Homo sapiens: one gene and its partner. The protein of the gene in region 1 interacts with the protein of each later gene in a pairwise test. Each region holds a gene or a part of one and is shown on either strand. Other genes may lie near its edges.

Region 1 (10,789 bases):
AGCCTTTACGACACACCAGAAAGCTGTGCTAAGCACTTTCCATCATTATTTAATCCTCAGAACTACCTTCTATTGTAGATACTATTATTCTCATCCCCATTTTACAGGTCAGAAAACAGAGATTCAAAGAGGTCATAAATTCTAAATTTCCTAGCTAACAGTAGATCTCCAAGAATTATACCCCCAGAGAATGTGCTTGTAACTGATACACTGCTCTCCCTAAGAGCCTTTTCATTTCTTGAAGAGGGTTCAAAAACTCAAAGCTCTCTGCTGTCAACACTTAGAGGAGAAAGTGGTTCTACTACCCTCTTTCTTGCAAAATTTTCTAGTAAAGATGTGGAGAGAGCATCAGCACGGGGTGTCAACAAACCTGCGCTTCAGATCGCTGCTGATAATACGGACGATCTCCACGGTTTATTTTTAATTGAAAAAAATCAAGGTGCAAAACGTGGTGTATAGTAAGCTATCATTTGCATTAAAAAGAGAGAAAAAGAGAATTTGAATAACTACATTTTCTTGTATATCCATAAGCTGCTTTGGTGGAAGATGCCTGCATTCACTACATGAAACAAAAACTGAATTTATTTCTGGTTAAACAAGGGAGAACTGTGCTTGTATGGCAAAGTCTCTGAACAAAGCTCATGGCTGATGCATAAGGGGCTTTGGGAGGTGTTGAGTTCGTGGACTGGTGGTGTTTCAGAGGCAGCAGTGTTTAGGAATGGTAGACCTTTAGCTATGAAATGTACCTACTGGCATGTGTCTGTTAGAATGGTTACCAAGGGAGTTTCATTAATAGATTAAATGAGTGTCACACAGGTTCTGGGGATTCGTTGTTACCGTGGTTACAGGGCAATCCATCGTCACCTAGGAATGTGGGAGCTTCTCTTTTTAATTCTCATTATCTGCCTTCTGGTCTCCCTCAACTAAAGGTGCAGGAAAGACCCTCCAAGATTGTCCAGATCTTCACCACTGTCATTGGCTTTTCTTGAAAACACAGTTCCATTTTTCCATGTACAGAGATCTGGTTTTCATTTTGAGTATCAGTCTGCCTCATTTCTTCTCATTTTTTCTTTGAATCATTTGTTTCACCATTTGTCAAACCAGAGGCTACATAAAAGCATTCAGCTCTCTGGACAACAGAACCTGAATGATGCAAGACAATGATAATTAAGGCCAGGCACAGTGGCTCACGCCTGTAATCCCAGCACGTTGGGAGGCCAAGGCTGGCAGATCACCTGAGGTCAGGAGTTCGAGACCAGCCTGACCCAACATGGGGAAACCCCATCTCTACTAAAAACTAAAATTAGCCATGCGTGGTGGTGCATGCCTGTAATCCCAGCTACTCGGGAGGCTGAGGCAGGAGAATCGCTTGAACCCAGGAGGCGGAGGTTGCAGTGACCCGAGATCGCACCATTGCACTCCAACCCTGGCAACAAGAGCAAAACTCCATCTCAAAAAAAAAAAAAAAAAAAAAAAGGGACAATGACAATTAAAAGTATTTTCAAAAAGATCTGAAAGCCTCTCTGGAGTCATGCCCCATGATTTCCCTGGCATGACCATCTACCTTAGATAGCCAGGCTGCTTTTTCTTTGGGCTTAGCTATAGATTAACCTCACCTGTGATATTAATCCAGGCACAACGGGAGTGTTAGCAATGGTGCAGACTCCCCTAATTAGCTAAAATAAAACCCGAAGGTTTCTGTGATCCATAATTACTCAAACTAAGGATTTTAAATTGGTCAGGTGTACCCTAGGGTGTGGGCTACATGATTTGCTGTGTCAGTCAAGGTGAGGGGAAAAAAGGCACTTTAAATTGTTCAACTCAGAATCCTCAGAAGTCTGTTTCATCTACTAGTAGTTAAACCCCCAAGAAGGGTTTCATCCCTTCAGACTCTGTGTAAGAAGACATAGTCCACCGTGGGTGCTGGAGAATCATGCACTGGAATGGTCTAAGTATTCATCATGCAGAACAATTAGTCTTAATTATAGTTGGAATAGAAGAGTCTGATCTCCACATAAGAAACAAACCATATCAACAAGCAAGCAGTATAGCTGTTCATTTATATTTATAGACAATGCCCTTTGGGAGTTTAGAGGCAAAATAGGAAAATGTTAAGTGCAAAGTTCTCCTCAGAAAGACTCAGTAGACAGATATGGACAGCTGTCCTTCTGACATGGAACATTAGTTCTTCTAATGGCCTTTCTGCATACAGTAAGTGCAAGTGTTCTCCACAGACTCCAAATTCTTAAAGAACAGAGGAGATTTGGGTCCTGTCTTTATTTCAGGGGCCAGTTGTTTTATCTAGTAGGTCAAAAGATTATCTCGATTTCTAGTTAACATTTTAGGACTCTTGGAAAATGATCAAGATATCTACACTAATGGAATTTCCCATTCCAATTGATTTTTTCTAAATCCTCTATTTTAGATATGAGCTTTTGCATAAAGAAAGGGCTCCTTTTACTTACACTTTTTGTTTGCCCCAGAATGTCCTTTGAAAGTGTCCTGAAGTCTATTAAGTCACCTATTGATTCATCATTTTGTTTGTTATTCTTGAATCTTTGCCCTATCCACCCTTAAGAGAAAATCTTTTAAAATAGTTTCATGTGGCATACTTCCTATTTTTCTTACCCTCTCAAGTCCATGCTTAAAAATATTATGCATAGATAGGTTATTTGAATCTTCTGACCTTTTTCATCCTGCTACTCTTAAACATTTTCCCCATTGTTGAAGGTCAACAATTTTTTTTTTTTTTTTTTTTTGAGTCAGGATCTCCTGTTGCCTGGGCTGGAGTGCAGTGGCATGATTATAGCTCACTGAAGTCTTGATTTCTCAAATTCAAGCAATACTCTCTCCTCAGCCTCTGAGTAACTGGAAGTGCAAGTGCACACCACCATGCCCAGCTAAATTTTAATTTTTAGTAGAGATGAGGTATGTTGTCCAGGCTGGTCTCAAACTCCAAAACTCAAGCAATCTTCCTGTCTCAGCCTCCCAAAGTGCTGGGATTACAGGTGTGAGCCACTGTGCCTGGCCTAAAGGTCAACAACGAAATGAACTAATTGGTACAAATATGATAGTCCAAGACAATAAGTAACGAACAGAATCCTGAATTACACAGGATATACAAAACAAACTTTCTTTTGTTCTGAAATTTGGGAAGATTCTATTTTTACCCAACTCAACTCTTACTCAGAGTTTAAATTCGGCCTCTCTTGATCTACCTTCAGTGCAGAAGTTTTAGGTGGGTGTTGTGCAATGTGATTGTTCTTCTCTAGAAAAATGCTCCCTGAAAAAGTTTATTTGGGCAGCCAGGGGAAGGAGTAAGAGGAGTATACGTGGGTAGTAAAGATCAAGTTGGGTGGAGAGAGAAAGACAGAAGCAAAGAAAACAGGTGTCAGAAGGTTTGAGTAAGAGTAAGGTCTTTTTTATCTTTTTCTTCCTGAGGCCATAGCATTCCAGACAAAGAAGCCTTCTATTTATGTTTGGCATTTTTGTCTTCTCTCTTCTCTAGAGCTCCTCTTAAATCTGATTTTTGACATCAAAACTTTGTCATCATGGCTACAGTAATCCTAAGTCATCTAGTGAACTTTTGCCATTTATTAAGACAAATACATGAGAGTACCTATAGTGAGAGTATATATACGGAGTTTTTCCAGGAAGAGGCAACAACCTTAATGCAGATGAGACCACGACAAGCAGGAAAGAGCACGCTACAATTGATAAACAGTTTCTACTTGTGCAGTGTCTTGAATTTCTTGACCAAGCAGAGCCTAAAAGAGGCCACATGATCAAAAACCTGAAAATTACTGACTCCCGAATATAAGCTAAAAAAAAAAAGTGACCTTCTTTTATGATTTACCAAGACAGAACACATGCTGACAAAGGTTTAGAGGGACCCAAGTCCAGGTTTTAGCAATTTCTTCTAGACAAATCAATTACCACTCCAGTAAAACTCCAGACACTCAGGGCTGACTCATGGTGGGGGCTTGTCAGAGCTATGCTTCCATTCCTTTCTTATGAAGTGCATCCTTCTACATTCAACATACACAAGGCAGTCTGGAACAAAGCCAAACCCCGTGAGGCAAGCATTTTTATAAGTGGATGAAGACAACTGAAACTAAAGCAAGTAGCAGAATACGAAGCAGATTAATGGCAAGGATATTTGCTAAATGGTGTATCTCCAAAACAAAAGATCTAACTGCCTGTATAAATTTCTATTTCTTTATAAATTATAGGAAAATGAAATAAATCCACTAAAGAGAACTCAATGAAATACATCAGAGCTAAAATCATGTTAAAAAAAAAAAATCCCATGACACTGACACTAGGTCTAGGGAAAAACAAAAAAACAAACAAACAAACAAAAACACCTCACCTGGCAGCAGATCCAAAAGACTATTGGAGATTGGAGCTAAATGGACCTAGTGAGTGCCCCCACTTTGACCAAAAAATCCACACAATGGTGACATCTGTATGTGTCTAGCCCGCATCGTATCTAACCACAAGGAACAGCTTATGTGCAGAAAGTTAAAAATCAGTTAGTGGAAGGGAGGAAGGAGATCTGTTTGGCATAGTTTTTTTCCAACAGTCAGAGAAGGTTCATGTGTTTATTCAACAAATATGTATAAAGTACCTATTCTGTGCCCATCCCTGGGCTGAGTGCTGAGGATACAAAAGTGAATAAAGGCCAGGCGCGGTGGCTCACGCCTGGAATCCCAGCACTTTGGGAGGCCGAGATGGGCAGATCACTAGGTCAGGAGATCGAGACCATCCTGGCTAACACAGTGAAACCCCGTCTCTACTAAAAATACAAAAAATTAGCCAGGCGTGGTGGCAGGTGCCTGTAGTCCCAGCTACTCGGGAGGCTGAGGCAGGAGAATGGCGTGAACCCGGGAGGCGGAGCACGAAGTGAGACAAGATTGCGCCACTGTACTCCAGCCTGGGCAACAGAGCGCGACTCCATCTCAAAAAAAAAAAAAAGTGAATAAAATACTGTCCCTGCTTCCATGGACATTTGTCTATCCTGTGTCTTGTTCACTGCTATATCTCCAGCACCTAACAGTACCTGGAACATGGCAGGTTTTCAGTAAATACATGTGAAATAAATGAAGAAAAAAAAAAGAAAAAAGCTTGGCTGGGCTCAGTGTCTCAAGCCTATAACCCAGCACTTTTGGAGGCTGAGGCAGGAGATCTCTTGAGCTAAGGAATTCGAGATAAGCCTGGGCAATACGGCAAAATCCCATCTCTACCAAAACAAAAACAAAAAAACTATAACCGGGCATGGTAGTGCGAGCCTGTAGTCCAAGCTACTCAGGAGGCTGAGGCAGGGAAATCGCTTGCACCTGGGAGGATGAGGCTGGAGTGAGCCCTGATGGTGCCACTACAGTCCAGCACGGGTGTCAGAGTGAGACCCTGTCTCAAAAAATAAAAAAAGAAAAGAAAAAGAAAAAGGAAAAAGCTCATGAACTAGTATCCAGACTGTCAACAAGAGGCAGTTACAAGACAACGTTTCAACAAGTGTTTATTAAGCATTTACCATGAGTTAGGCAGTCACTGTACAATAACAGGCTGTGTACAGGAAAACATGGTGGGCCAGCAGGGGAGTGCTGTGGGAGCACAAGGGAGGGACTCCTAACTTATCCCATGCCTTCCTGTAGCCCCTGAGCTGAATCCTGGAGTTTGATGACTCAAGGATTGAGGTGAGAACATCCCAGGTAGAGGGAACAGGATGTGAACAGGGTCCATTCAGTAAAAGGTGATTGGGGAAGCTGCCTATACAGCATCTCTTATGGCTGTAGGGCGGTGAGTGCAACCCAGAGAAGATGAGGATGAAGAGAATAACAGTGGTGATCACAAAAGGAGTTGGATCTGCAGACTTGGGGACCCCCTTGGTGGGGCAGAGGGTTGTTGGGGCAGAAGAGAGATAGGATTTACATGTCTACCAGATAACTCTAGCTTTAGGTGGAGGCAAACAAACCAATGAGAAAGTTTAAGCAGTGGTCCAGGTGAGAAGTGATGGTGGCTTACACTACGGTGAAGGAAATGGCAAAGGATTGGCTGGGCAGACAGACTGAAGAGATATTTGGAAAGTAAAGTTCAAAGACTGATGAACACGAGCAGATGGCAGGAGGCTGGCAGGCTTCTGACTCTAGAGACAGAGTGAATAATAGGATCATCCCACGAAATAGGGAACATGGGAAGAAGATAGATATGCTTTGCAGTGGACAGGGAAGAAAAATAGTCCCAACCAGTAAACAGAGAGCAGAACTAAAATTGACTCATGAAACCATCAGAGTAAGCTTAGCATGTGAATGAGGTAAGCTGTGTCCTACAGCTTGTGATGTTCCTGGCACAAAAACTACCACCCACCTCTCTACTGCCCCCAGGGCCTGCAAGTGCTTTTACTCAAGACAAGAATAAATGCTAGTTTATTCTACAAACACCCTCAATTTTTATTCTACAAACAATTATTGACTTCCCACACTGCACTAGGTACTGCTCTAGACACTGAGAATAGAGCAGTAAACCAAACAGCTAAAATCCATGACCTCATGTGACTTCTAATTTAGTGGGAAGAAGCAGACCTTCAACACAGTAATTTAGCAAATTATGTAGAGTGTTAGGAAATGAAGCTGGGCACGGTGACTCACACCTGTAACCCCAGCACTTTGGGAGGCCAACATGGGAGGATCACTTGATTTCAAGACCAGCCTGAGCAATACAGTGAGACCCCTTCTCTTAAAAAAAAAAAAAAAAAAGAATTTGCTGGACATGGTGGCATGCACCTGTAGTCCCAGCTACTCAGGAGGCTGAGGCAGGAGGAGCCCAGAAGTTCAAGGCTGCAGTGAACCATGATTGTGCCACTGCACTCCAGCCTGAGCATAGAGCTAGACCCTGTCAAGAAAGAGAGTGAGAGCAAGAGAGAAGGAAAGAAGGAAGGAAGGAAGGAAGGAAGGAAGGAAGGAAGGAAGGAAGGAAGGAAGGAAGGAAGGAAGGAAAGAAAAAGAGAAAAGAGAAAAAAAGAAAGAAAAGAAAAAAAGAAGAAAAAGAGAGAAAGAAAGAAGAAAAAAGAAAGAGAAAATGTTTGAAAAGTAAACAAGGAAGAGATTAGGAAGTGCTGGGGTGCTGGGCAAGGGGGTTATAATGTTAAATACAACAGAGAAAGTCTCACTAGAAAAGGTGAAGCAAAGACTTGAAGGTAATGACAGAATGTTGTTATCTAAGAGAACTGAATTCCAGGCAGAGAGTAAAACAAGCACAAATTGTTGAGTTGGGAGCTTGCTGTGTTTTAAAACTCAGCAGGGGGGGCAAATGGAATTGGGGAATTGGAGGAATTGAAGACAGAGTTGGTGATGAGGGTTGTGGGTGGACAGGAGGGAAGAAGGATGATTAGATTACAGAGTATCTTAAGACCCAGGTGAGAACTTTGGTTTTTCTTCTGAGGAATATGCAAAACCACTGAATTTTGGAGAAAAGAAAGAGAAAAAATCTTTCTGGCCAGGCGCGGTGACTCACTCCTGTAATCCCAGCACCTTTTGAGGCCAATGTGGGAGGATCACTTGAGCCCAGGAGTTCAAGGCCAGCCTGGGCTATATAGGGAGACCACGTCTCTACAAAAAATACAAAAGTTAGCCAGGTGTGGTGGTGCACACCTGTAGTCCCAGCTACTGGGGAGGCTGAAGCAGGAGGATCACTTGAGCCCAGGAGTTTGAGGCTGCAGTGAGCTGTGATCACGCCACTGTACTCCAGCCTGGGTGACAGAGTAAAACTCTGTCTCAAAAAAAAAAAAAAGTTTGCATTTACCCCCACATATTTGCTATTTCTTATCCTATTCATCCCTTTCTGTAAATGTGAATTTCCATCTGGTATCATTTTCCTTCGATCTTAGCATTTTTTACAGCCTGGGCCTTCTAAAGACAAATTCTCTCTATTTTTGTTTATCTTATAATGTCTTCATTTTGCCTTAATTATTGAAGGATATTTTCATGGAATATGAAGTGAAAGGTTTACAGTTTCTTTCTTTCATGTTTATTTATTCCAGTTGTTTTAAGAGCCTGTTCTTTACTTTTTAGCCATTTGACTAAAATGTGCCTAGGTGTGATTTTCTTTTCTTTTCTTTTTTTTTTTTTGAGACAGAGTTTTATTCTTCTTGCCCAGGCTGGAGTGCAATGGCGTGATCTCGGCTCACCACAACCTCCGCCTCCAGGGTTCAAGCGATTCTCCTGCCTCAGCCTCCTGAGTAGCTGGGATTACAGGCATGTGCCACACACCCAGCTAGTTTTGTATTTTTAGCAGAGACGGGGTTTCTCCATGTTGGTCAGGCTGGTCTCGAACTCCTGACCTCAGGTGATCTGCCAGCCTCGGCCTCCCAAAGTGCTGAGATTACAGGCATGAGCCACCGCGCCCGGTCGTTGTGATTTTTTGTTTTTCATGTTTGGTGCTCACTGAATACTTATGTTGATGCTTTCCATCAAATTTAGTAACTTTTCAGCCACTATTGCCAAATATTTTTTCTGCCCTTCGTCCTTCTGAGAGTCCAGTAACGCGCGTATGTTATACAGCTTGGTAGCATCCCGCAAGGTCAGTGGGGTACTCTTCATCCTTTTAAAATCTTTTTTGCTTTCCCTGTTTCAGTTTGGATAATTTCTATTGACCTTTTCGCAAGTTTACTGATCATTGCTTTTGCTTTGTCCAATCTGTTGTTAACCCTACCCAATACATATTTTCTTCAGATACTGGTTTTTATAGAACTAGAATTTCTATTTGATTCTATTTGAGTTTCCATTTCTTCCTTCCATATTATATCGCTCCATCTACTATACCCATTTTTTCCTATCCTTGGAAGTTTTGAGCTGAAGAGTGACATGATATATTTTAACAGAACTACCCCAACTTTTGTATTAATTATGGAGGAAGTTCAGGGTAAGAGAAATAAGGAGACCAGTCAGGAAGCTATCGCAGGAATTCAGGCAAGAGATGATGGTGGCTTAGGCCAGGGTATGGCAGTAGAGAAAATGGGACTCAAGTGCCTATAATGAAGGCAAAACTCACAAAGCGAAGTGAATTAGGTATTGTGAGGGACGCCTAAACAATACCATGATAAGAATTTCCTTTTAAAGAGGGTTTTGCCACAAGAAGGGGAGTGAGAACAGAATGTATCCAGAGATCTAAAAACTTGATACACAAATAAAGGGATCTGGGACTAAAGCAAGGCCTTATAATCCTGGACCTTCAAAACTAGAAAGATCCTTGAGGAGATCATCCAGCCTAACTTCTTACTACTGACGAGGAGCCTGAGACACAGAAAAAAGCATGGACCTACCCAAAGCCCTCCAGCAAATTAGTGGCAAAACCAGAATTTAAACCTACAAGTCCATATGCTTCCTTTCCATAGGACCTGGACCAGCTGGGATCATTGGAAGCCAGTGAGCTACATAAAGAGAAGGGAGGAAAATGGAATGACCATTGATTGAGCACTTACCATATACCTAGCTTCACAGGAGCTACTTTTCATATATATGAGTCTTTACTCCTGCAAAGTAGGCACTGCTATTCTCATTTTTCAAGTGATAAAAGTGAAGTTCAAAAAGGGTAAAGAATCCACCTAAGAACATGCACCTGTTCATGGGGTAGGACACAGAGCTATCTGAAACCTGAGCATGTTTATGTGCATGTCTGCATGAGGTGGGATTTTGCTGTCATTAGATCCTATCTGGAGTGTGAACACAGGTGAAGGACTAGCATTTTTCAGCCACGGTCTTATGTTTACTTAGGAAACAGCCCAGCCCAGTGAACTGGGCTCAAACTCAAGACTGGCTGATTCAACAAGGCACCCCTGCAGACAAAGCTGGCAGAGTAGAAGTTTCAACTCCTTTCCATGGGTAAGAAAACTTTGTACAGAATAGGAAAAAATGGCCTAGGCAGAAGGATCTGCTGGCCATGGGAAGCTACAGAAGATTTGGGAGAGGGGAGGAGTATTATATTAATGCCTTGGGAGAGGCTGACCCAATGATACCCCCACCACAGTCAATTTCCAATAGGCATCTGGAATTCAGATTCCGGAACCCATGCCCCTCATTCCTTTGCCTCCAACAGCAGCCCACCAAAACCTGATCTTGAAGATCTTCTGTTTATGCTGCAGGGACTGTCAGGAGCCCTATGCCATCAATGACTCCAAGGTTCCCAGTCAAACCCAGGAGCACAAGCCATCGACCCAAAGTAGGTATCAGATAAGGACACTCTGCATGGCCTCTCTAAACCTCACTTTGCTCACTCTCTGCCTGCTGGGATACCCCCAAACTGCCTTCATCACTATCACTGAGTGATAATTCCAATTTAAAATGAGGTGGGTGTTGGATGGCTAAGTACTCAAACCAATAAACAAGAGAGCTTAAACTCTTGTGCTTAAAGTGTAGTCTATGGGCCAGCAATATTGGCATCACTTGGGAGCTTGTTAGAAATGCATTTTCAGACCCCGCTCTGGAACTACTGAATCAGAACTGGCACTTTAACAGGATCTCCAGGTAAATTTGAATGTACATGATAGTTTGAGAAGCACTGGATTAAAGACTATAAAAATAGTGGTTAAGATCCCTGTTTTGGGGGCAATACATGTTAGTTCAAACCTCAGCTCTGCCACAGAAATTGGGCAAGTCTCTTGACCTCCCTGAGTCTCACTGTCCTTGCCTCTAAAACAGGGATATTCACAATACATTATTATTGTGAGGCAATATAAATAAGCATCTAGCTCAGGGTCTGGCACAGAGTAGGCACTCAACATGCAGAAAAAATA
Region 2 (10,789 bases), on another chromosome or scaffold:
GTAGGGAGCTGGGGTGAGGGGAATGGAGCATGAAGGGAAGGGAAAAGGCTGCCAGATGGAGAGTAGAGAGATGCCTACTTTGAGAGGCAGCTATCTCAGATGAGAGGTGATCCTATAATAACAGGAGTCCTAAAGATGAGAGAGACAAGAATATTCAAGTCATAAGGGTTACCATTATATTAAAGTGTTAAGAACTAAAGCAAGGGTATTTTTAATATTTAATAATGGAAATTAAAATGCCCATTTTACAAAGTGAACATGGAAATTCAGGGAAAACTAAAAGGAAATAGTAAGTAACAAAGCCCAATTCTAAGCCAAGTACTATATGTCTAATACTAAAGCCCCAACTGTTCTCGGCTCACATCACACCATTAGCTCCAAGGGAGTGCAAGAAGACAGAGATCCCATATTTCTCAGAGTGTACTATGGGCCTCTGTCATGCCTGTTTTCCTGAAGGTAACAGTAAATGAAAGGGGAGGCTAGCCACAGAGCAGTTTCCTTGAGCAATGCAACACTTTGTTCCAGGAAAAGGAAATGGTACAATAGCTTTGTGTGTTCAAAAAGAAGGCTTACTCTGGAAAACAAGGCAATTAAGAAAACAGGACTCATTTAACAATATATACTGAGTACCTACTATGTGTCAGGTACTAGAAGGAGGGAGAGAATGATGAATAAAACAGATACAGTCCCTATTCCATACTGTGTACAACTTGGTTAACCATCCTTATTACTATGATAGTATAATAATTTTCTATCTTGGCTGATTATACATTATCCCCAATGGAGGTTTGATTAAAAAAAAAAACATGAAGTCAAAAGTGGTATGAAGATTCTGATTTAGTAGGTCTAAAATGGAGTCCATGAATCTCTATTGCTTTAAAGTTTCTGAAGCATAGTTAACTGAGTGAACTAGACCTCAAGAGAGAAATTAAGGTATCCGCATCTTTTTAATACATGTATTTATATTAACATGAGTTGTTTGCTTCTTTTACATGTGCTTAGTTTTACCACAGGACCAGGCACAAACTTAGTCTTTTTTTAAAGATTTGTTTTTTGTAAGTGATAAAAAGTTAAATTATTCAAGCAAATTAACTCAAAGGCAAAGGAATTATAAAGTAAAAAGAAGGAGGCCGAGGTGGGCAGATCACCTGAGGTCATGAGTTTGAGACCACCCTGGCCAACATGGCAAAACCCCATCTCTACCAAAAATACAAAAATTAGCAGGGTGTGGTGGCACATGCCTGTAATTCCAGCTACTCAGGAGAGTGAGGCAGGAGAATGGTTTGAACCTGGGAGGCGGAGGTTGCAGTGAGCTGAGATCACACCACTGCACTCCAGCCTGCGTGACAGGGCAAGACTCCATCTCAAAAAAAAAAAGTAAAAAGATTTCTCTCTTCTGGCCATGAGAACAACTTAACCTAAGTAAAACATTACATAAAAAAAACAAAAACAAAAAACACACACAAGTCACATGTTATGGTTAGGTATATATTCTACTCTTGTGCAAACCACATATGAACCTATTAGGTTTATCATACTAGTATTAAGTATAGTTTTAGATTAATCAGGTGGCACTGGAAACTTAAGAATCAGTTAAGAAGTCTGTTTCCGGGGCACAGATTTAGATGTCAGCCGCAGTAAACTCCAGCAGGAGATACACTGTAAGGATGAGAAAGAAGGAAAAAGCCTTTTGGGATCCTAGGAGCCAACAACCACATTTTGAGGCAGACACAACTGAAACATTGTGAGCCACTTGATGGACCCCATGAACAAGAAGTGTTTTATTCTTCGTCTACACTATGTGATTCACGTTTGCCTTTTTGCTGTGACAACCAGGAGGCTGAAAACAAAATATATGGCTCACATCAAGCAATGCTACTGGAACCCTGCTTCATCTTATTAATATTTTCCTTCCCTTATCATCTTTCGGCTCCTTAATGCTTACATTTATTTTATCTGCTTCTTTGTGTCTAAGTCATTTCCCTTAAATCAGTTTTGGTGCAAGGCAAGGTGAAAATTATTAAAGAATGAGTCAAGTAATCAAAGTACTTCAAACCTCGTAAGCTCTCTGGACAATTTATACATTCTCTCTCGTTTTTCTTCGGATAAAAATTCTCTTCAGGAAAATCTATTCATAATTTTTTTTAGTATGAGTTCTTGTATAGTCATGGTTAAATTGTAACATTGCTAATAAACTAATTTCAAACTTAGAAATTACAGTATCATTTGACTAAAAATTATTTTATATGAGACCCAGCATCTTCCCTTAAGAGTTGTGTAAAAGTCTCTTGAATCTTTGCTTTCTTTTGTATGATATTGATTTATGTTTTGTTTAAGAGTTATAAGAATAACGTGATAATTGCAGAGTTTGGAAAATAGAGAAAAGAATACATAATTCAAATTAAAAGAACACATGATCTATTCACATTTCACTGTATCTTACTATTCCTCTCTCAGGCTGAAATTCACTCACCCAAATAACGTAGGGGGAAATGCCGACGGCGATATTTCATTTTACCTAATCTTCCTCTCTCTTGTCAGAAGCTCTTCCATAGACACTCAAAAATACACATATTCCATCTTTTTCATTCACAATCACATTCTCACAGACACAGTCCCTTTTTCTACCTGAATGAGATGCAGTAAGGAATCCATAAATTCAATGAGTGTTATAATCAATGAGTGTTATAATCAGATTCCTTACTGCATCTCAGTCAGGTAGAAACTGGGACTGTGTCTGTGAGAATGTGATTGTGAATGAAAAAGGGAATCTACTTGAAATAATTGATCTTATGTTTAAAAGTTGTTCAAGTCTTTGTTTTCCAGTCATTTATATCTATAAACTCACCTACCTTATCCAAATGCTACCTTTTTTGCCTCACTTAAGTCATTCTTCCCTATGCCTATAGAAATAGCCACTGTTTTTCCTTATGTGGCATCAAAATAGGTTCTCTCTAAACTACCTCCAAAACTTCATTTAAACACATAAACCTTCCTCCAAATGAACTGATCTACCCAAGAGATTCATCTACAAAAAGACAGATGCCATTCTGAGTTGATGTTTCTCTACCTATATGTGGTGGCCCTCATTCTTCCATCTTATTCTTAGTTTCTGAACACTTAATTCACAGGCAAAAGGTGGTATGAGACAATAACTGATGCCAAAACTAAACAGAAACATATTTCTGTGATTCAATGATAGATTTCATTACAGAAAGGAAGTAATTACGTATGGTTTATGAGGTATAATTATTTTGAGATTTAAACTAGCCTACACTTTTAGAAAAATTATCTTTGGATTTCTTCCACATCTGTCTATTCAGAGAGTGAAACAACAGAAGTAGGCTAACATGAAAAGATTTTCAAATATTTGTTATTAAGTGCAAAGTTGCATGGCATCTGTGACCAAAATGTAGTATTTCTGCCATGAAGTATTAATAAAAAATAAACAATGCAATATTATTTCCTTACCAAGAAATAGATCAAAGAAGGTCTACTCAAATATTCTTAGCAGAACAACCAACCACCATGAAATAATATTCTCATGTAAAAGATGTGGAAACATCATTTGAGATGTCTCTGTCTTGATAATTCACTCTATGGCAAACATCTTGAGTATTACCTTGCAAGTCTGAATCATTCGACTTTGGGCTGCTTCTTGCTCGTCGCTCTGTTTTCTTAATTCCGGGACCACTACCGCTGCCGCCTCCGCCACTTCCACCACTATGGCCCTTCCCATAGCCATTGTATACTGTTGTGCAGCTGCTTTTGTAGATAGAAGAAGGAGGGCTGTTGAGGCGGTTCTGGCGATCGATCTGGCGGTCTTTCAGTTTTTTGTGCGGAGGCTTGCTGTACTGGTCTTCTCGGGTGATGTAGGTTGACATTCCATAAAATGGTATAATTTCTAAAATGGATGATTATGATAAACCCAAACTCAGTTTACATTTTCAATAATAAATTATTAAATGGTCAAATGATCTGGCTCCTGAAGAAGTCTAAAGTATAAAGGAAGTCTAAAGTATTACTAAATAGAGTCTAATAAATATTTTTTAAGAAAATACTGCTGGGCACAGTGGCTCACGCTTTGGGAGGCCGAGGTGGGCGGACTGTCTGAGCTTGGGAGTTCGAAACTAGCCTGGGCAACATGGTGAAACCCCATCCCTACTAAAAATACAAAAAATTAGCCAGGCGTGGTGGTAGGCGCCTATAATCCCAGCTATCCAGGAGGCTGAGGCAGGAGAATCGCTTGAACCCTGGAGGCGGAGGTTGCAGTGAACTGAGATTGCATCACTGCACTCCAGCCTGAGCGACAGAGCAAGACTCTGTCTCAAAAAGAAAAAGAAAAAAGAAAATGCCATATACATGATATACATTTAAAGCATTCCCATTTGTTTCTAACCAATCAAGGAATAATCAATCATTAAAAACTACACTGTGTGTTCAGAAAAATTCCTATATTACAGAGAATACTGAAGACAAGGTTGTTATCCCTAAAGAGCTCATATTCTAGTTGCATTTATAACTGAGTTTGATTTTTACCTTTCAATATGTTTTCAGTAGTTGCAATACATGAAAAAGTCAGAACAAATAAAATACCCCTATTAAACATGTACTTAGAATCAAGCTACTTTAAAAGTCTACTCATCCCTGTAGACAGAATAGTATTTCTACTGGGAAGTATATTGCAGTCAAAGTTTTCTGTGGCATACAAAAGAGCCAACATTTGAACAAATTTAACTAAGATAATGAGATGACATATTTCCATTTAAAATAATCAAAGCTCACAGAATCAGGGGAAATGTTCAAGGAGGAAGTATAAGGATAAAGAAAAGCCATCTCTGAAATCTGGTGCCAAACATAATAAGCTGTGGTCTCAAACTTCTCTTTTGGAGTAATAGAAGGCAAGACAAATGTAGAATGTCACCTGACTTTACTATGCACATTTTAAAGTGGCTCAAAAGAAAATAGAAGCCTGCAAGCAATCTTATGATCTCAAGGGGAAAACTTTATGTTAAATTTAAATTTTTAAATCAGTTCAAAATTATTTTTAGGTATCAGTAAAAATGACAATGCGTAACATAAAGATTGGGTCCTTACATCTTTATAAGAAAAAAGGGTCACCTCTTCTATGGAGTGACAATATAAATTACCATCCAAATCTGAACACTTCTGAGAGCGAAAAGGAAGGAATATCAATAATTTCTTCAAGGCAAGAGACCTACACTAGGACTGTCACAGGCACAACAGAAATGTATGGTTACCCTGCATAATTTAACAAAACTGCTGTCTCAATTACTCAACAGTAAAGCTCCACTGTTTCTTACTGTTAACATAGCTAAAGCATAAACAAGAGTTGTTTTGTTAAAAAACAAATCTTCATGAGAGAACCAGTTTGCACTAGAGAACGTGTCAAAACAAATATAATCCTATTCAGAGAGTGTGTATCCAAAGAAACTATGTCAAAATATACCAGAAGGATAGTAAATGTTCTAAACACCACGATGTATTACACATGAGATTTAACATATTCACTATGGGCAGTAATAATCTTTTCAGACATGTTGAAAACTTTTAAAACTCTTATAGTTTAGAAAATTAATATTTAAATTGCTTTTAGGTATGCACACTAAGAACTAAGGTAAAAGAATATATCAATGGCTTATTTATAAAGGGAAGGGATTTTGTTTTACTGCTTTAATTTGAAATCAATGAAGGCATTTTTATTTGCATACATTATTGCTCTGTGTTATTTTAATGGAATTAGACCCAAATACACCATAAAATGAAGAGACTACAATTTTGCTTAACTCTAATGACGATTTAAATCATACTGTTGTCTTGCCTAAAATTGCAAAGGACAGCATTTACAAAACAGTAACCATGTGGCATCCTACTAACAGACTGCTAAAATAAGGCAAGTCAGACATATACCAGCAAGCAATGAGTCAGTCACCAAGGCCTTTCATGTCATCAGAGCTCAGATACAGCCAGAAAGCTCTAAGAAACACTCAATTATTTAATGCATGTTGAGTCAAAGCACTGAATACATTAAAAAAATTACAGCTAACTAAATTTTTTCAGTTTTTATCCAAATGTTTTCATAGTATATCCCCAATACTTGATGTTTTCTTGGTGTGTCGCATGGAAAAAAGATCAAATTGATAGGAAGTTATTGATGCTGCTATGAAATCAAAGTATTGATTTCATGTTTTGCTATCATCCCCTTATACGACATTGTGAAAGCACCTGATTAATTTGAATCATGTCAAATTTCTTTGACTACAAAAAAAAATAAACAAAACACACATACAGTCAAATTCTATCCCTAAGTTACAACGATATATTTCACTTAAAATATCATCTCAAAAAAGTTTTTTCTGTGAATAAGTTATAATGTGAGATGAACAGGGAATAATTATATATATAAAAATATAATTATAAATAAATAATTAATTATATAGAAATTATATAATTATATATATATAATTCTTAAAAGTGATAACTTGCTCAAACATTCTATGGTATAACAGGCATTTCTTCTACAATGTATCTAAACCAACATAATAAATGTCTGAAGCAGTAAAATGCTTCCATTCATAGTCAGACTCAGAAGAAAATCACTTTGCAAAGTCCTAGAGGCTAAAGTCTAATTTTACCCTCAATTATCTGGTTTCTTAGTATCCATTTTGATAGAGAAAGCCTTTAGACTAAACCAACACCAGGGTCAAAACTTTAAAAAGATATAATGTTGGTAGCTCTGAGGCTCTTTTCATATCCAGGTAAGTATTTGCCTAACAATCAGTGAAATTGCGGCTGCACTAATGGCTACTCTTAAACTAAAAGCAGGTTCAGGAAGGCCACATCAACAGCCAGGGGATTTTTGAGTTCTGCCAGCATCACAACATAGAGCCTTTTAGGAAACCTAAAGGTTCTTGAGACTTCACAATCTTCAAACACTGGAAATGGGGCACAAAACACTTTTCAATTTCCCTTTAACTGGTAGATCATATGGATACCAAAGAAACGATGTGCCACAGTTGTACCTCAGGCCACTCTCACATACAAACATGCTTTCAGGACATGGGAACGATGTCACACTGCCACTTTTCTAAAATAAAAGGTGGCTACCTTACTCCTTGATCTTGTAAGGTGGGGGTTGGGGCCGAGTTTGTGAAAACTGAAAGAAAGAAAAAGAACTAAACCCACAAAGTAATTTTTCCAAGGCACCATTCAGGACAAAGGAAGCTAGGAATTCCCCATGAGTCTTACAAACCACCTAGATCCTTTTCTACTATGCTTATTTCACAAGAAACAAAGGACCGCCTTGAACTATTGAAACGCTGTAATCAGTTTCAACGGCTCCTGACGCCAACGAAAATCTACTCACCTTGCTCACCATATATTGTGTGGGGAAGATGATGCTGGGGAAAAAACTGAGGCGGCATATCTCCAGGTCCGGTAACAGGTGGGTAGTAAGCCGTGTGTGAGTTATGAATAAAATGTGGATGGTGAGTCAGATAGGGAGGGAGATGATGGGTTGGAGACATGGCTGAGGGGTAGCTTGGGGGATAACACTCAGGAGACTGGGGTGTGACCACCACCCGGCGGACTCCAGTACTATCTTCAATCACCTAAAGAAAAACACAAAAGGAAAGAACGCAGTACATATTAGCAGCCTATGAATATATATAGTATTAATAACTTCCACTTTAATTTTACTTTTCTCTTCCACCATAGAAAAAAACAAATGCATGTTGTATTCTGGTTCTCTAGTTCAACCAGTCAAATGAGTTCTAGAAGTAATAACATGTAACTATAAAAACGTACAAAAACAAATTATTCATTGACATCTGATTCTGATCCCATGTAACTTTTTGGAGAGACCAGTATTTGATAATAAATCTTGTTTTTGTCTTAAAATTTTCACTGGCTTCATCCAAGACGAGTGAATTTAATGTGTGCTGAAACTGATTCTAGGAGTGACTTTTGAATTTAACTATCAGTTCAGTGGTTTTCCAGAAAGAGGCTTTCTGTGCCACCTAAGTACTTTTCCAGGGCTAGGCTTCTAGATATGCTGACAACATTCTTCCCCTTTCCTGCTTTAACATGCACAGTTCCATCATCATCAGGGCTTTAGGAAACAAAGGTGGCATTAACGTCAGAAGCCGTAAGTGTGCCCTAAGATTACTTAATCTAGGACTGAGGATATGGATGAAATGAGGGATTCTGACCAAAGAAAAACTTAAGTAACCCCAAATCAGTATGGACACTTTTGCTCCCAAGATGTCCTCATGATGAGTGTTGTGAAAGAAGATGCTTGGAAAAGCAACCTGCTATGAGAAAAGCAAGCCAATCAACACTCTATCCATTCTTTTTCCAATTCTTTGTTCATTATTTATTTTTAGAAATGGGATTTCACTCTGTTGCCCAGGCTGAAGTGCAGTGGCTACACGCAGGTGTGATCATCATACACTACAGCCTTGAACTGGCCTCAAGTCATCTTCCTGCCTCAGCCTCCAAAGTAGCTGGGACTACAGGCATGCACGACCGTGCCCAGCTCCTCTGAATGTTTTCTAATTCATCCAAGTAGAGCAACGAAGGCAGCACAATGCCAATATTTATTGCCTCTGTGGCCAGCGTCACACTACCAGCTCCTATGAGCAAACAACTTTGGTGAAACACAATGAAAGAAATAACTAACACAACAGATACCATGATGAAAAGGTAAAGTTGTAGGGTACAGAGAATGATAACGTGAGATGGGAGAATCAGGAAAGGCTTCAGGGACCTCAAACAATTGGCAGGGCTGGGACAGCTGAGAGATGGCCTCTAGGTCAGGGCCCTGCAAGGAAGTGGACACGGAGTAAACCTGGCAGTGAGGGCCAGGCTGCCAAGAAGCCATGCCAGCTGATCTAATCAAATGCACGATCGGGCACACACTCTGACAGGAAGTTTTGTTTTACAAAAAAAAAAAAATCTAAAAACCGCACAAAACTGACCTTCTATATTGAAATGGATTTCTCATTATACCTCAGGAGGTTAATTATAGGACAAAATAAAATGACTTAATCATGTCTAAAACATCTTAATAACAACAAAAAACTATACTTAGCTTCATATTTTAAAAGTAGTGCTTAAGACAGATTGGCAAGTCTATCAATGTTTATGTTATATTTCAGTGTACAAAATAGGTTTAGATTGAATGAACGGCCATTAATCCTTATGTTAAAAAAACAGAAATCTTTACATTCATTAATAAATCTATCAAAATAAATGTTTCTACTGTGTTAATAGTTCATAAATAAGATAATATTACCTATTTAAAATTAAGATTCCTAGTGAGATGCCTAGGACACAGCTTTTCATGTGATCTTTAATAAATATAATCTCTTCTGGGCCTTGGCAAGCTAATCACACTAACCCCATTTATGAATGCATGGAAGCTAATTTACAAGTGTATGTGAAGTGGGTGCTTAAACCATGACATTGGAAATTCTCATGCATGTATTGATAATTATCATCAAAGCTTCTTCTATTTTGTCTAAAACATAGAGCTGCATGCTGTTTGGTAGCACATGTATATAAATAGCACATGTAGTATAAATACATCATGATTTTTTTCCTACGATCTGACACAAACATGCATTATCCTACAGTGTCTTATTTCCCTCCTCACCCTCTACTAGCTATTAAGAAAAAAAAAAGGCATATTCCAGATGTTTCTCTTTCATGGAACCTTCATTCAATCCTGGAAGGACCACAGAAGTAAAGTACTTGTTTTCTAGAGGTTTACAATCTTTATTCTTTCATTCAGTGTAAAACTTCCAAAAGTCAACCAGCAACATAGACAACTGATGAAGTAGAACAAGAACAGGGCTCTCACTAAATATTAAGAGGCACGCTTTGGACTTTTAAACAAGACTATTTATAACGAAAAAATTTATTTGATCATTTTATCATATAACTTTGGACCTGTTAACAAAGTGGTTTTAAAAAAAAATTATCAAAAAGCACTAACTTTTTGAAGTTTTTTTTGAAGTAGCTTTTTGAAACCACAAATTGCCTGTACATATAAAAATTGCTTGACAGCTCCATTTTAAAGTATCTTATTCTGTGGGATTTGTAAAAGGTTTTTATTTACATGTGCATGCATAATGAAACCCTTTTAGAAACCTGTTCTTGACAAACCCAAGCCTGTCTTATCATTAAAAAGATTTATTTTAAAAAAGTGAAATATTGGCCAGGCGCAGTGGCTCACGCCTGTAATCCCAGTACTTTGGGAGGCCGAGGCAGGTGGACTGTCTGAGGTCAGAAGTTCAAGACCAGTCTGGCCAACATGGTGAAACCCCATCTCTGCTAAAAATACAAAAAATTAGCAGGGTGTGGCAGCGTGGACCTGTAGTCCCAGCTACTCAGGAGGCTGAAGCAGGGGAATTGCTTGAACCCAGGAGGTGGAGGCTGCAGTGAGCCAAGATCGCACCACTGCACTCCAGCCTGGGTGACAGACGGAGACGCCGACTCAAAAAAAAAAAAAAAAAAAAAAAAAGGTGAAATATTAATTCTGAAATAGTAGAAATATAAAAAATATGTGAATATTTTTACCATTTTTCTATAACATAAATTGCAACATATTTTAGTTATCCAATTCAGCTTTGATCTACATCTAAGGAAATTATGCCTAAGTCTCCCCCAAAATAAGAAAATCTGAGGAGCAATAACAATGCACAAAATAATTGGCAACTAAGGAAACGGTGGCAGTAACATTCTTTAATAAAGATGGCTCATAAAT

The links.
Region 2: the proteins of TEX48 (region 1) and FNDC3B interact in binary tests that used the Homo sapiens proteins (3 or more experiments, as listed by UniProt).

What each region holds. Positions count from the first base shown.
Region 1 is NC_000009.12:114,670,809-114,681,597, reverse strand, and holds part of TEX48 (testis-expressed protein 48), read left to right. Parts: exon of another isoform or gene 1-439; intron 440-9,770; 5' UTR 9,771-9,874; coding exon 9,875-9,878; intron 9,879-10,092; coding exon 10,093-10,215; exon of another isoform or gene 10,216-10,342; intron 10,343-10,789.
Region 2 is NC_000003.12:172,244,375-172,255,163, reverse strand, and holds part of FNDC3B (fibronectin type III domain-containing protein 3B), read right to left. Parts: intron 7,632-10,789; coding exon 7,388-7,631; intron 3,905-7,387; coding exon 3,623-3,904; intron 1-3,622. UniProt on the Homo sapiens protein: May be a positive regulator of adipogenesis.